Linked DNA regions of Homo sapiens: region 1 is linked to region 2. Evidence: fine-mapped expression QTL. A gene starts in region 2. The other region holds a variant in brackets. All regions are shown on one strand. Distances are from middle to middle. Region 1 has its middle 37 kb from the start of EPDR1. Region 2 holds the start of EPDR1 (ependymin related 1).

The links. PIP is the estimated chance that this variant, and not a neighbour inherited with it, causes the effect. A credible set is the group of variants that fine-mapping cannot tell apart.
Region 1: its variant is the best candidate, but not a certain one, in a credible set for the expression of EPDR1 in whole blood (INTERVAL, PIP 0.50).

What each region holds. Positions count from the first base shown.
Region 1 is chr7:37,953,511-37,961,848 of GRCh38, forward strand. No RefSeq gene overlaps it. Among named protein-coding and RNA genes, the nearest start is that of EPDR1, 37 kb to the left of the region's middle. The variant T/C (reference allele first, on the strand shown) is at 3,514.
Region 2 is chr7:37,917,157-37,925,494 of GRCh38, forward strand. It overlaps EPDR1 (ependymin related 1), which reads left to right and starts at 3,484. Exons shown (of 3, transcript NM_017549.5): 1 at 3,484-4,052. The coding sequence starts at 3,784. RefSeq lists a silencer at 3,729-4,178.

The sequences.
Region 1 (8,338 bases), 36 kb after region 2:
GGTTTCCTTTACCAAATCCACTTTCTCTGCAGTCCCAGCTACTCAGGAGGCTGAGCTGGGAGAATCGCTTGACCCCAGGAGGTGGAGATTGCAGTGAGCCAAGATTGCACCACTGCACTCCAACCTGGGCAACAGAGAGAGACCCTGTCTCAAATAAGCAAACAAACAAACAAACAAACAAACAAATAAAAGCCTTCATTTTCTCAATGTTGCCTCTGTTATTTTAAATCACTTTGCCTATATATCTACCTGCAGCATATGGGGTGTTTTTACATTTTTCCACTTACGTAGATCTTGTCTTTCTACATCCACAGAAAGCACCTCAAATGCAGGAATGCCATTCTTGTCATTCTTGTTGAGTGAAAATAATTTATATTGAATGACAGAGTAAGCCTCCTCAGCCAAAGACTTGTGAATAACTGGTGATATTTGAAGGCTTTGTAGGTGAACACCTCTTTAAGAGACAAATTTAACTTTATTTATGGATATTCTGATATCAACAACCATCTCTTTTTGGAATGATGCTAAGATAATAAATGATTAGAACATATTTTTATTTGTTTTAAAGCAGAATTATTAGCTCAACTGCATGTGTAGAAAAAATACTGGGCCTATGATTTGTTGTATAGTTTATTCAGGGAGAGAGATGCTTCCCTTAATGATATCCTAATTTTAAAATTTATACTGTTTTCATTAGAGCAAAAATGAACACTTATTTTCAATATTTATTTCATATTTAAAGTTGGAAAATATAATGTAGTCTCAGCATTCAAGGAGTGGGCTATAACTATCCTATAATTTAGAAATAATATCAAAGACTTGGAACCAACCCAAATACCCATCAATGTTAGACTAGATAAAGAAAATGTGGCACATATACACCATGGAATACTATGCAGCCATAAAAAAGAATGAGTTTATGTCCTTTGTAGGGACATGGATGAAGCTGGAAACCATCATTCTCAGCAAACTAACACAAGAACAGAAAACCAACCACCACATGTTCTCACTCATAAGTGGGAGTTGAACAATGAGAACGCATGGACACAGGGAAGGGAACATCACACACTGGGGCCTGCCAGGGGGTGGGGGGCTAGGGGAGGGATAGCATTAAGAGAAATATCTAATGTAGATGATGGGTTGATGGGTGCAGCAAACCACCACAGCACGTGTATATCTATGTAACAAACCTGCACGTTCTGCACATGTACCCCAGAACTTAAAGTATAATAATAAATAATAATAATAACTTTTTTAAAAAGAAATAATGTGCAATGAATACAACACACTCAGGATTTAAGTAATCTGAGTATATGCATGTGTTGTGTTGTGGTTGCAGTTATATCATTCCCAATGGCATATTGTATATTTATTTTAACATACAACTGTTTAAATCACACAGCTAAGTATTCCTTTCCTTCACCAAGATAACTGATGGCAAAATAGGTACTCTTGTTACTTAAACATTACTAGCATTATTGCCATTTTTACATAACCTCTATGATTTTAATAAAGAAAATTATGTAAAAAAAAGAAGTCAAGGCATTATCTGTTATTGTGAGAAATGGGTTTTCAAGCCTAGAATATGTTACTTAATAACCTCTCAGCCCTAGTTGATTAGTTTCTCAGTCAGCCTGGGAGAATACCTGTTGGGAAATCACTGGTCTTAGTTTCCCAATCAGGAGGCACCAATCTAACTATTGAAAAGTCCCCAGTTAACCAAATACACAAACCTGCTTAATTAAAAGTGTAGTTTTGGGATAGACATGTGGGTATTGATATATGTATTAGAAAAACTTAGGGTCTGTTGGTTTTGTTTCACTCCTGATACCAGAAATGATACCTTTCTTGCGGGATCGTGGTATATCTGTCCTCTCTTATTATATAAGTGCATTTTAGCAAAGCTTAGTTTTATATTAAATTCAATTATAAAATGGGGGATTCTTTTTTAAGAAAAATTAAAATGTGTAAAAACTAAATTGAAAATCTTTGATGAGGAAAAAACTAAGATAAAAGTTGTTTCTAAAGCAGTTCTGTGATCACATTAGTTGATGGGCACATACGGGAAGCAGTTGCAATTTAGTCTCTTTTCAGAAGAGCCCTTTGCTTTTAAAGAACTTTCTGATTCTAAAGTGTTAGGTGACCTTGTCTCAGTAGCTGTGGCATCTCTGAGGGCTTGGGGATAATGAAGTGAAGATGTAGACTGCCCTGTCTTGAATGATCTTAGGACATTTTAATAACCTTAAAGTGGACATTAGAATAATGGGAGTGGGCAAAATGACATCATCTCAAGCCCAGGAAAAGTGTATGTTTTTATGATGTTTCTTATAACTTAAACCTCCCTGTACTTAACACCTTTCATAATTTCCTCCAGGTAAACCTATGTTCCTATCACCATAACTCTTATCACATAAAAAATAACTAATAGCACTGCAAAGATGTTTAGATGTATTTTAAAACTTCAAACATCTTGGGACTGAAGACGTTACTTAGATCCATATATGTCCTATCCTTAATACAAAAAATATCATGATGATAGCAATCCTATAATCCTATCTAGCTCAAACTAACTATATCCCAAGCAGCAAAAAGAGGTGAAGAAGAAGGAGCAGGAAGGGGAGGAGGAGGACACGAAGAAGAAGAGGAAGAAGAAGAAGAAGAAGAAGAGGAAGAGGAAGAAGAATAAGAGGAGGAGGAGGAGGAAGAGGAAGAGGAGGAAGAGGAAGAGGAAGAGGGAGAAGGAGAAGGAGAAGAGAAAAAGAAGAGGAAGAAGAGAAGAAGAAAGAGAAGGAAGAGGAATGGAAGAAGAAAAAAGAAGGATGTAGGGGAGGAGGAGAAAACATTTATCACCATAAATTCTCAGTCCAAAGGGCTGTTGATGTATACAGATGAATAAACATGAGAGTAGCACAAGCCACAATGGAGCAGCACTTTAGAGATTTTCAGTTCAGTTGCCTCCCCTTTAAGTTTCTCTAAATTAGAGCATTTCCAGACTAAACGTTCTTTCCTGAACCATGAACCATTGGCCCCGCCTGTCAGAAATTTAGAATTATTTCCATGTCTATGTACCTCATAGTACATGTTGACATTCAATGAGGAATAAAAATAGCCTTAAAAAGAAAGCCTGCTTGTTCAGGGAATAATTTCTCTGCCTTTTCAGTTCAATACATTTAAAATGAGTTTTATTTTGTCTTCTCAAAACAACTAAAGTTCAGTATTATGGTGTATTCAAGTGTGTAGGTATTGAACCTCAAAGGACTTTTTAAGTTTAACTTTGTATGGAAAGTATATGATTATGTAGGTAGTCTTTGGATAATAATGGGTTATCAAGTGATTTTGAAAACTCTCAGATCCATCTTATTCTTTCTAAACCTCTTACTTTCCCTGTTCAGTCATGAGAACTCTGTATTTCCTGAGTGAAGAAAGAGGAGGAAACAGCTTTATTGAGGTAATTCAAATAGCTCAGATAATAGAGGAATGAGAGTCTATTATGGAATTTGCAGTAGATGTCCC[T/C]AGAATGGAGATAAGTAAAAATTTTCCCCAGACTCCTGCCATATGTAATCATTCAGTACAACCATCCTGTTCAAAAATAAGTTTGTTAACAAATTTTCCATGTGTCTCTAGAAGAGTGGTCATCAACAAATCAACTTAACAAAGTCAGGCATAAATAGACTAAATTTAGGTGCCCCAAAGTTGGAAATAAGATTAAGCTCTGTGATTGAAAATATAGGACTGATACCTAATAAATGGATAAAGTAGCTATTTAGAGATATACATCACAGAAAGAGAAGGTCTTCAAGTTTGGGGCTATAAAACTGGAGAAATCATGAAGTCCGATGAAAGCAAGATTGCCATTGAAATGCAGTCTCATCAAAGTTTAATCAGAATTGGGGCTGATGTAAAAGAACACTGGAATGTTGTAATTTCGTCTGAAAATGAAGTGTTTTCGCAGAAGGATGTTGGTTTACATGGAGTTTAGTTAGGGAATCTTAAAACCAAGGATTTGGCAGTGTTTATCTAACTGTGTCCAGGAGAGAAAAATGTGGAATCTGGCAGTCATATACAGAATGTTGGGGACAATTATGAGATTAAAGTCATGTGTCATTATTTTGCCTAAGATTTAGGAATATTTCACTTCACTCTCCCTGTCAGGGATCCACAACAGAGCAAGGTCAGGAGACAGCAAAGCAAGTCATCACCGTTACTTAGCTGGAGCTCTGGCCCCGAGCACTTCTGTGGACGTCTGGTCAATCAGGCTAGACCAACTGGAGGAAGTGGAGGCCAAAGTAGCCGCAGGCCAGAGCAGGCCAAATTACTAGTTCTGTCCATTCTACTGCAAGTCCCAACACAAGTAGATCTTACCGCTCCCAGGTCAGCAAAAGGGCACACAGAGTAGACCCACTGGCGACAGAGGAAAAGGAGCAAGGACAAGGAAAGAAGTTTGTGCCTTGGTGCCCAATGCTGCCTTCCTCAGACCTTGGGCTGGTCAGAGCAGTAGCTAACCTGCATGGGAGGAACATCCAAAACAGAGAGATTTGGCCAGGCCTGTTGGTCAAGCAGAATCCAATAAGCTCAGAATGATCCCTCCAAACTAGGTAACTTTTCTTCTGATTAGAAATTTTACTTCTCAAGTAATTTTTTAAAATCATAACTGAATATCCAAAATGGCAGATTTAAGTATTTCACTCACTGGAAAAGTTTAAAACATCATTGCAAAATAATGCAATGTTTTTCTGATTTATTTCCCAGTCTCTTAAGTTAAATTGCTTAGTGCATGTCAGTCTGTAAGGGAGGCTGTGCAGTGTAGTAGAAAGGATGAGGATTTGAAACCATACTTACCTGAGTTCAGATGCTGATTCTGTCCGCCATTACCACTGTGTTACCGTGGACAAGTCATTTGAACAGTCTATGAACCTAAGTTTCCTCCACTTCTAACAAACAAACGAACAAACAAAAAAGGTGGCATATGGGGGTTGTTAGGGTTAAATGAAATAGCATTAGAACGTGTGTAGCACACAGCTTTGCAGGCAATCAGCACTCAAAATATTAGATGTCTTCTACCTCTGGCTTCTTTCCCCCTGAGATCCTGATCAACCCTCCATGGACCAACAAAATCAAACCTGTATGACTGTATGAATCTGCTATGGATTAGAGCAGGGTCCTGGAGGCCTACAAAGGCAGTGCCCTCAGTGGGCTCTGCTGGACCCGTCAGCTAAACCATTCCCTAAGGTATCTCTGTCTGTTCCTCATTGCTCACATTCGTGTGCAGAAACATGCACCCACCTCTAGCCATGCTCAGGCAACGTCAAGTATAATATACATGTAGTTTAAAAAAAAACCCCAGCAACTTCCCCTTAATAAATACATCTCTCATGAACCCTGGCATTTTGCACATAACATTTTTTTTTTTTTTTTTTTTTTTGAGACGGAGTCTCGCTCTGTCGCCCAGGCCGGACTGCGGACTGCAGTGGCGCAATCTCGGCTCACTGCAAGCTCCGCTTCCCGGGTTCACGCCATTCTCCTGCCTCAGCCTCCCGAGTAGCTGGGACTACAGGCGCCCGCCACCGCGCCCGGCTAATTTTTTGTATTTTTAGTAGAGACGGGGTTTCACCTTGTTAGCCAGGATGGTCTCGATCTCCTGACCTCATGATCCACCCGCCTCGGCCTCCCAAAGTGCTGGGATTACAGGCGTGAGCCACCGCGCCCGGCCAACATTTTTAAGATAGAGAAAATAACAGTAGTATCAACCTCAATCTACATCAGTGAGCACTTGTTTTGTGTCACATTCTCTCCAGAGTTTTATACTGATTATTTTATTCAACCTCAACAACCATCTTTGAATTAGCTACTATTGTTATTATGCCCATCTCATAGATTAGAAGACAGAAGTCCACATCAAATGCACTTGACTTGGGAGGATAATTGATAATAATTTTCAACTATGATTTTATTTACTGGTTGCATGCTATTTGTGCATTACTTATAGAAGTCATGTTGACTAAGTGAAGAAAAGACTGGGGAATACGTTAAAACATTTCTCTAAAGCTGATTTTGAATGATATGAGCTTAAAATAAAACTATTTCAATATCACCTTTGTTAGATTGCCAGCAATGCCTGTAGGCTTTTACGCTGTGGTGAAACCTTAACTTTCCCCAAACTTCATGGTCACACTTCCATTTAAGCACAAAAAGGGTGTAGAGTCACAATATATTAAGTTATTTTTTGGCACCAGAAACAAGAAGTACCCATCAGCAGTATGCCAACCTGTGCAAGAATTTTCACTAACTGGCCCTCAAGGGTCATGGCTCAGCAAGGTCATGGCCATTCCATTTCCAGGCTTTGAAAGGTGCCGGGGCAAGCAGGAGTAAGGTAGAAAAATGTTGGCATGCACTGTTGCCACTTCTGCCAAAAGTCTGGCCCATCAATCAGAAAGCCAGCAGTCATCTTTTTACTGAGAGAGTTGTACTGGGGGCAGCTGAAGCCACCCCTTTATCCTCAATTTTCATCCCACTACTGTTCAACAGCACCTCTTTCCCTGAATCGATGTCAGATAATACAAATTCTAGCAGCAACCAAGAGTGAAATAGGACAGGCAATGGGGCCACTGGTGAACAGTTAATGAAATCCCCAAAAGAGAGAAGAAGATCTGAGGATTGTAGTTTTCAGACTAAAGAAGTATCACTTGCTTGAAATGATCAAGAATCCATTCATTCATTGAGCATTACTGAGGCCCTCCTACATGCAAGACTGTCTTCTAGGCACTGGGGAGACAGTCAAGGACAAGGTCCTGCCCTCAGGAAGCCTGCATTCTGCTGAGAAGGAGACAGATGACACACAGAGAATTTTAAAAGCCAGAGAATGACAATAATCACCCAGTTAATGGAAAGAGGCTAAAGGAATATGGTGAATAAATAGCACCTTACGATGGGGATGGTCGGGTACAGCCTCTTTGACGAGGTGCCCTTTAACTTGAGTTTCCAATGTCAGAAAGAAGCTTGTCAGGAGAAGATCCAATAGGTCACATTCTAGGTAGAGGGAACAGTTAAAGCAAAGGCTGAGGCTGCAAGGAGTTCATCTTGTTTGAGGAACTGTACAGGCCAAGTAGATGGAGTTTGGTGGCTGAGACTTTCAAGGAGAGTGGATCCAGATGAGACAAAACAGACAAGGGAAGGCCAGACCTCACATGCTGGAGTGGCCACAGCAATGAGTCTAAACTTCATTCTAAGGCCAATGGGAAGTTGTTGAAAGGTTTTCAGTGATGATTCACAAAATCTGGTTTATATTTTCTAAGATCCTCCTGTTTGCCGTGTGGAAATGGATGGAAGGGGTGTGAGAGAGAAGGTGAGAGGACCGGTGAGCAGGAGTGCAGCAGCTTGGGAGAGAGAGCATGGTGGCTTTCAAGGGGGTGGCTGCAGGGGAATGGGGAAAAGGCACCAGGGTCAGGGCATGTTTGGAAGCAGTAAGTGGGACTTGTTCAATTAGCTGTGGTAAGGTGAGGGAGGAAGGAGGAGTTGAGGAAATCCAGTTGAGTTTTGTCGTGATTAAATTTACATAATATTCAGAGAACTAGATAACAGCAGCAGGAGGAAACCTCTTAATCTAGTGTCTAGTGGAATACCGTGTGTGTGCATGCTATTAGAACAATGAAGAAACTTCTATTAATTATGAAAAATGTGTATATATGCAAGTTTGTGTCTGTCTGTGATGCTATATAATAGGATATCAAACAAAATTTTTCCTGTTTTCATGGCTCAAAGCCAAGGACAATGTTTAGAGAGCCACCAGCCACCTCCTGCTTTTACTGAGAGGCACTAATGAAGACTTGGCTCTACCACTAACTCCTGCATATATCTCATCCTCCTTCTTTTAAGCCACGGAATGTGAAGTAAGTCTCGCTGGGTGTGCAGTTTTCAAAAGTGCATCTGCCATCCCTACCCCACTCTGCTCATGAAACTGAATATGTTTGTCCATCCTCTGGGGAGACTAGCATCTTGTTACTCACTTGAGCATCTGCTTAGACAGAAAAAAGTTTGAAGATAATTTTTTTTTTTGAGACGGAGTCTTGCTCTGTTGCCAGGCTGGAGTCCAGTGGCGTGACCTTGGCTCAGGGCAACCTCCGCCTCCCAGGTTCAAGTGATTCTCCTGCCTCAGCCTCCTGAGTAGCTGGGACTACAGGCACCCGCCACCATGCCCAGCTAATGTTTGTATTTTTAGTAAAGATAGAGTTTCACCATGTTGACCAGGATGGTCTCAACCTCTTGACTTCGTGATCCATCTGCCTCGACCTCCCAAAGTGATGGGATTACAGGCGTGCACCACCACACCTGGCCTGAAGAT
Region 2 (8,338 bases):
CTCCCTCTGCCTTAGAGTTTTTCCAAGTATAGAGTTGGGGGAAAATAGGAGCTTCTGCTGCCCTCTAATTCTGAAATATATTTGCTTTCTCCGGTAGGGGGCATGAGGAGCGCTGAGGACAGTTGGGACAATGTCCTGCAAGGCAGGCGAGAGTGCAGTGAATGTCAGAACAGGAGGGTCACGTTGTATAAATCACTCCCACTCCGCCCTTAGTTGTGTGGAGTGTGGTTTGTTGTTGTTGTTGCTAGTAGACAGTTTGGGCCGAAATTTTTCCAGTATAACACTTGGTTTGTTTCTGCTCCAGGAAGTTAACAGAACTGGGGGAAGGTGTGCTAGCATCTTCCAGCTTCAGAAATGTCTTCTAACATTTCCTCTTCCTTCTAACTCCCTGTTCCCCTCTGCAGCATTAGTGGAACCCAGGAGAAAACATTGGGCACCACAATCTGAAAGGTCTCCCCTGCTCTGATCCTTCATGCCAAAGGATTTCCACCTCAGCAGCCTAAAATCTTGATTTTTGATGTGCTCAGAGACTGTTGCTTGAGTTGAGTAAGAAGCTGTGTACTATGGGATGCAAGTATGTATGTTTTGCTTTCTCTTTTATCTTACTTGCATTAGGAAAAGGTAGTCCAATTGCTGGCTCAGCTATCTACAGAAAAGGGAGGATTTATTTATATGAGATTGATGTATATCAATCTTCAGGTGGTAAGACTTCTGGTATATGCTATTTATTAGGGCATCAGCAATATGGAAACATGTTCTCTGAATGTTAATCTTTAAAAACATAGTTTAACTTGAATTTAAGGCACATGGTTTTTCTCTCCAAAGCTTAAACCTACACAATTAGTTTAGTTTTGACTGAGGATTAAAACTAAAGACTAAGGATTAAAACAGCTGAGGAAACAACAAGCACAAGTGACATCTATTGGGAATTTACAATGGTCAAGGTATGAAGCTAAGAACTTTAAATGCATTATCTTATTTTTTAGGGAACATGAATTAAACATAGTAAGTGAAAAGGATAAATGAGACAAATACATTTCAGGATTCATCCAAAGAGTCTGGTTCTTATTTAGGGGAAGCCCAGGGTGTTCTTACACTGCCAAGCCACTCTAGAAAGGTAATCTAGTTCCTATAGAACCAGTCTCCACCTCCAAAGATGCCAAGCCAGGCTAGTAAAATATCACATGAGGAGGAAAGCCCAGATGACATCTCAAGCCATTTCTAGCAGTAAACTCCAATGAGTCTAAACCCTTCACTGGGTGAAAAAGATTTTCAGCTGGAGTTCCTACCTGGGGAGCAAGAGAAAGAGCTGAACTACCCTACACTTTTCCTATGAATCTGAGCAGGGCAAACTCGGAGAGGGCTCAAATTTCTGCAGCCAGTTTGAACCTGCTGCATCTGTTTAACTATGTAAGTACCAAGTCACAAAGTCTTATGGGCTTCCCTGATGTTCTCTGAGGCATGCCCTTTAAGAAAAGGTAAGAGGAAATGAAGAGCCCTTCTTCCTAAAGCTTTGTGCCTGCCCCATTCGGCCCATTGGTAGTGTCTCTGGTGGTTCGACAGACAGGGGGCAGCAGAGAAGGATGCATCAGGAAAACCTGTCAACTGTCCCTCCTCTTCGGGACTTCCAGGGAGGCTGTGATTCTAGAACACCCTACTTCAGCATTCAGTCCATTCTTTCCATGCCTTACATTTATTTAACAAGGCTCGGGAAGTTGCCTCATTCAGTGGCTTCTCTCTGGTGACTCCTTTTGGTCTCCTCAAGTGCCTGTTCTTTGCCCATCCTTTAAATGTCTGGAGCTCTCTGGGGCTCCATCCTAATCCTTCTTCTCACACTCAACACTCCCCTGAACTCCAGGTTTTCTCACCCCCAACACTTAGGACATTTGGGGCCAGATAATTTTCTCTTCATTTGGGAGAGGGGAGGTGGCTGTACTGCACATTGTAGGAAGTTTAGTAGCATCCTTGGCCTCTACCCACAAAATGTCAGCGGTAGCCTCCTCCCCATCTACATTGTGATCATCAAAAATGTCTCCAGATATTGCCAAATGTTTCTTTGCTGGGGAGGGGGATGTGAAATTTCCCCAGGAACCACTGTTCTACTCTTCGGCTTCATTTACCACCTATGTACCTATGGCTTCCTAATCCAAAAGCTCTGCTGGTTTCCAGAAGTATTTATCCAGCTGTCCCTTGGATATTTCCACCTTAATACTCCACAGTCAGCTCAAGATCAACCAATCCTAAAATGAATTGATCATCTCTCCTCACTCAGGACTGGATTCCCAGTGGCCCAAACCAGAAACCTCTCTCTCTGAGTTGAAATGCTTCTCTACAGCTCCCACCTGTCTTCCACCCTTTCCATGACCACTCCCGCTGCCTTAGCTGAGTCAGGATCATCTCTTTCCAGGATGATAACAGTAGCTTCCTCCTCTCCCTGCCTTCCCTCTGGCCCTACCCTTTCTGTTGTCTAAGTGGGCTTTCTAAAGCATATGCCTGATGATGCTCCTCCCTAGCTTTACATTGATTGATAGTTCCCACAGTCCTCAATATCAATGACAAATTCCTTAAAATGAGTGCTATGGCTTCAGAGTACTCCTCTACCTTGTCCTTGAACCCCAGCATTATTCTTTTCTTGTCCTTATGCCCTTCATTCAGGAATGTTATCTCCCACTTTCACCTGGCTCAATCTTAATCATCCTTGAAATGCAGTTCAAATGGAAAGACGCTATACATTTTTTTAGTTCCTTTCTTTTTTCTTGATTTCATACTTTATCACTATATTTTTAGAGACAGGGTCTCGCCATGTCACCCAGGCTGGATGGAGTGCAGTGGCATGATCATAGCTCACTGCAACCTCTAACTCCTGGGCTCAAGCGATCCTCCCACTTCAGCCTCAGGAGTAGCTGGGACTACAGGTGTGTGAGCCTCGCTCATTCCATATTATAGATCCTAACATTACATAACTATAAACCCAATTAACCTTATTCTTGAAGAAGCGAAACCCCCCAGACACCCAAACCACTCGGCTGGTGGTATTGCCAGGCGATGGGAGGAGCAGTCTCACTGCAATGTGACCTTGAGGCTATGTCCATGAGTCCTAGGCCCAATGCAAGGGGCTGTCTACTAGTCTCCTAGACTCTTCACTGGGAATGGGAGCTGAGGAGCGGCCATGATGAATAGCTAGTATCATTTCTTCAGGAAAAGACTCGTCTTTCCACTTTTAATTTGGAGGAAGAAGTTTGCAATTTTGTCGAGGGGCAATGTAGGCGGGGCAAACGTTTGCACAGCAAACGCAGCAGCTCTGCTTTTCCTATCTTGACCTTGAACTTGCCCCTCCCTGTGTGATTACCTGTTGAACACTGAAGTTAGTGGAGAAACACACTTCTCAGCACAGTCTCCCCCCATCCCCCCTCTTAAAACACGATGCCTCCCAGGATGCTAGTGGCACCACTGCCACTGCATTTCCTGTTGGCAGCAGTGAGCAGTGAAAACCGAAGCGGCAGAAGGCAGTGGCAGCAGGCAGTGGCAGCAGGCAGTGGCCCAGGCAGAAATAGCTCCCGCGCGATTCACTGGAGCCTTCCCCGGGCCCTGGTCCCGGCTACCGGGACTCGCGCGTCCGGATCTCAAAAGCGGCAGAGGCCACCGAAGGGACAGGAAGCACTTTGGTCCAGACCACACTCCCGGCACAGTGCGGAAAGAGCCGGCGGGAGCCACTCTGATCCCGGACGCCTCAGCGCCCCCTTGGGCTTGGGCTTGCCCTCGGGCCGGGGAAGGCTGACCGCGATGCCAGGACGCGCTCCCCTCCGCACCGTCCCGGGCGCCCTGGGTGCCTGGCTGCTGGGCGGCCTCTGGGCCTGGACCCTGTGCGGCCTGTGCAGCCTGGGGGCGGTGGGAGCCCCGCGCCCGTGCCAGGCGCCGCAGCAGTGGGAGGGGCGCCAGGTTATGTACCAGCAAAGTAGCGGGCGCAACAGCCGCGCCCTGCTCTCCTACGACGGGCTCAACCAGCGCGTGCGGGTGCTGGACGAGAGGAAGGCGCTGATCCCCTGCAAGAGGTACAGGTCATCGGCCCGCGGGGCGGGAGTAGGGAGCCGCGCGGGCATGGGGAGGGCGAGGTCGCAGAGGCCTGCGCCCTGTAACTCTTTCCGGCCCCTTGCAGCTCCTCCCTTCTCCCAGAGAGATCTTTCGCGAGGAGGGTCTCTTGGGGATAGCATGGTCCGGGACTGGGAGGGGCGCTGCGCCCACCGAGGGCGGCCTGCTGGCGGGGGACTCAGTAACACCCAGCGAGGCGGTGGCAGGTAAAGAAGGGACCCATCCAGGGCGGGATCAAGCTGCAGAGTGCCCCATGCCCAGGTTCGCCCCTGTTCTCACGCTGCTGAGTCAGGCTCTGGGCTCATGGAGCCCCCTGCAGTCTAGGGCGTGTCTTCTGCGCTATCTCATTTCTTTCTAGAGACATCTGCTAGAGAGGCACGCAGAATATGTATTTTCTAAGAAATACTTTTTGTATTTTAAAAGAATATGGCAAGATTACAAACGGTATGGGAAAGTGATAAAAAGAAAATTTCACCCACAAACTTAGCAAATTGTTACAGCATTAAAATTTTGGTCTACTCCTTTTAAGTTTTTTGTTTATTTTAAAGCAAATTTTACATACTATGATCAAAAGCCATACGTTATCTGAATCTTTTTTTAACTTAACATTGTCCCTTATATGTTCTTATTTGCCATTTTATTAGCTTGCCTCCTATTTTTAATGGCTGCACAGTATCGCTTACAGGGGCAAAGCTGTAAGTTTCTTTTAAGTATTGGTCTGACCATTCACCTTTTCACATCTGTTGTGACAAAGGAAACCCTCTTTTTGAGATGTCATCTCGCTTGTGGCCCCTTTAAGACCTGATTTCTAATTTGGGATCACCACCTGTCTCCCTTCCAGAGCCCTGCCGTTCCCCCTAAGTGTGTTCCTCTCACTGGCCTCTCTTTATGGCATTTGCATCATTAGGAGTTGCAAAGTGAATTTCCATGGTTTGAAACGCCAATGGACTGTAAGATCTATAGCAAAAGGGCACCATTAGTTTATAGAACAAAACCAAACTTGATAATATCATTTATTCTAAAAGCATTTGTTCAAGTATTAGGCGACTTGAAGAAAGTACGGAAAGGGCAGACCCTTTCAAACAATATCAAGGGTGCAAAATAATGCATTATGAAATGCAGCACAGAGCAGCACAGTCATCATGGTGGACTGGGAATTGATTCGAAGTCTTTCAAGAACATGAATGTTTTCAGTAGGGTCTTGAAGGGCACAGTAATAATAATAACAACTAACAGTTGCATACTTATTATATATGAGGCATGACACTGAGGACTTTACATCTATTATATAATTTAGTTTAAATCTCACAATAACTTGACAGTATAGGTTTTATGATCTCCATTTTACAGACAATAACTCTGAGGTCTAGGGAGATTAAGCAACTTTCTTAAGATCACACAGCTAATGCTTGAGGAAGCTAGGGGGGGGTTCTGACGCCTATGGTATACCAGGTTCACATTCATTCATTTATTTAACAAGCATTTGTTCATGTTAGGCACTGTGTATAAACAGAATGGCTCCTGGCTTTCAGGGAGGTCAGAGTCTGGAGGTGAAGTCACATAAATAAAAAAAATTTCCATACAGTGGGATGAGGGGTGAGAGCTGGGGTTGTGATGAGAAGAACTCAGTTGGGCACCTAACCCAGGCTTCCTGGAGGAGCTGAAATGAGAGTGAGTTCCAAAACACCTGTACAGGTTTTCCAGGGAGATGTGGAGAGACTGCTGGTCCAGGGGGATGCAGGTGTATCCATGCCTGGTATGTGTGTGCCATCCCGGAGTTTTTAGAGCTGAGTAAATTCCAAAAACCACAGACCACTCACTATTAGGGCTGAAGCCCAGGACATGGCGAAGGGTCATACTGAGGAGTTTTAAACAGTGGAATTTGTGATTAGATTATATAAAGATCCCTGGATGTGTCCTTAAGAATGCATTCCCAAGATGTGGACACAAAATGGAGCCATGTGGAGCAAAAGTGGAAGTGAGAACACAATCTTGGAGATTGTCGTAGTGGTCCAGGTGAGAGATGGGTAGTAGCGATGGAAATGGTGAACAGGGGGCAAGTGAATGCATTAGGGAAGTATTGAAGAGGTTCAACTGAGGAAAATGTACATGATTGGACGGGTTGTGGCAGGCGTGGTGAGGGAGAGGAAAACGTTAAAGAGGCCCCCATTTTTGGCTTGTGAAGCTAATGGTACTGATGGCATAGGGTAGATGGTGATGCTGTTCCTTGCAACAGGGCTTGACTTTGTGCACTTCTAATTAAGGGTGCATTGGTATCCTATGTAATTTTATGTGAAGACTTGTACAGTAGTGGCGCATTGATGAATAGTCATATTGAAGATGGACTGGGATGGCCGAGAGCACACTGCTGAAGCAGAGGAGTGTGTCAAAGAGAAGGATAAGGGTTCATCTCTCCAAAGGTAGTATTTTTTTTTTTACAATTAAAAAAATTAGACTTTAGAGTCAGACAAATCTGGATCTGAATCCAGACTCTGAATATGGGTCTTTGGGTAAGTTAATAAAGCTTTCTGAGTCTCAGTATCCTCATTTACAAAATGTGAATACTTATAATGCCTAATTTATTGGATTATTATGGGAATTAAATGAGCTCAAGTGTATAAAACATACAGTACAATGTCTGATAGTACGCACAAGATGCTCTGTTCATGGCCAAGGTTGGTCCCATCGCTACCACTATCATCATTATCCTGGTAAAGTTACCATAGCCCAGAGACTTGCTGCCAGCCCTTTGGGCTCAGAAACTTGATACAGCAGCACACACAGACCCTTCCTTTGGGAACAACCTTCGAGTAAGGAAACTCAAATGCTAAACCTGTCTACTTCAATGAGTCTTATTGCTGGCATGAGGACCAGCATTCTCAAATCCACCAGACTAGGTCATTCTCTCCCTGTAGTCAGAACTATGTGGGGAGCCAAATTATCATCAGGCAGTTGTGAGCAAAGAGTTGGAGCAAATTCATTGAGCAAACATCTAATGATTGCCTGCCCTAGGTTAGGCTGTATGCTCAATGTGGAGTTTTCCATCATGAATAAGACAGGCCAGCCTGGGGTAAGGTTTAATGGTAATCAGGCAAAGGCAAAGTGATGCATTGATTTTCACAATAGAGATGACTTGGTGGTGGTTCTGTGCTACCCCAACTGTGCTGTTCCTGACCCCTTCCACTCAGAATGGACCCTTGGTGAGTACTGCTCAAGTCTGTCTGAGCAACCCTTCTTCCATGACTCCATGACTGACTAATATAGCCTTTAGATGTGTGTTTTATACCTTTAGTGGAGTCACAGCCAACTCTTGCTGGCTTAGAAGCATTTTTGTCCCTTTGCGGTGATTTCTCATTCCTCTGCCCTAATCCAATAGGTGCTGGTTTCACAGTTAAACTTCTAAAAGACATTGTTTTCCCTTTCTTTCCGAGTTCTTGGCAAGGTTCTTTCTGACAGTCACATCGCTGGCCCTAAGTCAGATGTGGAAAAGAATGTTTAATGCATAAACACATTTTTAAGCTCTTTAAGTGTAGATTTGTTGGAACAAACTCAGAAACTTTTTCAGGTATTAACAGTCTGGCCAAGCAACCAGATGTTATTTGAAGAAAATATGGATGAGTTGTCTCTTCATATTTATGAGTAAGTTGAGAAGTAAGTTTTAGAATTGGATCAACTTCTTAAGATTTTCATTTTGCATCCAGATAGTTATGGAAAATCCCATTGATAGTTACTGTGGAATGACTAGGATTTTCCAGGCTCTGTTTTCCCTGAGATGATGGAAAAGATTAAACAACTTTACAAGCTTCAGATAAGACAAGCCTGAGCAGCAAATGGGAAATATTAGTAATTGATACCATTTTATTTTCTAATTCCAACTGTCTTTTCTGACTCCTTGATTAAATTCACAAGTATTTATTTGAAAGACTGAAGGAAATCAAGAAGATGATTTTCATATTTCAGGCAGCATGTTGAACTTTATAGGGGAAGCAGCGTTGATACACAATGAACCCTCTCAGGCCACCAGTAACTATAGGCTCCCCCTTACAAAATGGTGGCTTGGGTGTTGGAATCAATGAAGCTCTTAATGCAGAGTGAGCAGAGAGGCAGTAAAACAATATGCACAGTCTGGTATCTTGGAATATTATTTCATCACCAGTCGTACATGTTCTATTAAGGATTTGTATTTGTAAAACATGAAAAATATGTCACAAATGGGGCAGCAGGTGGATTCTTATTCAAATTCTGATTA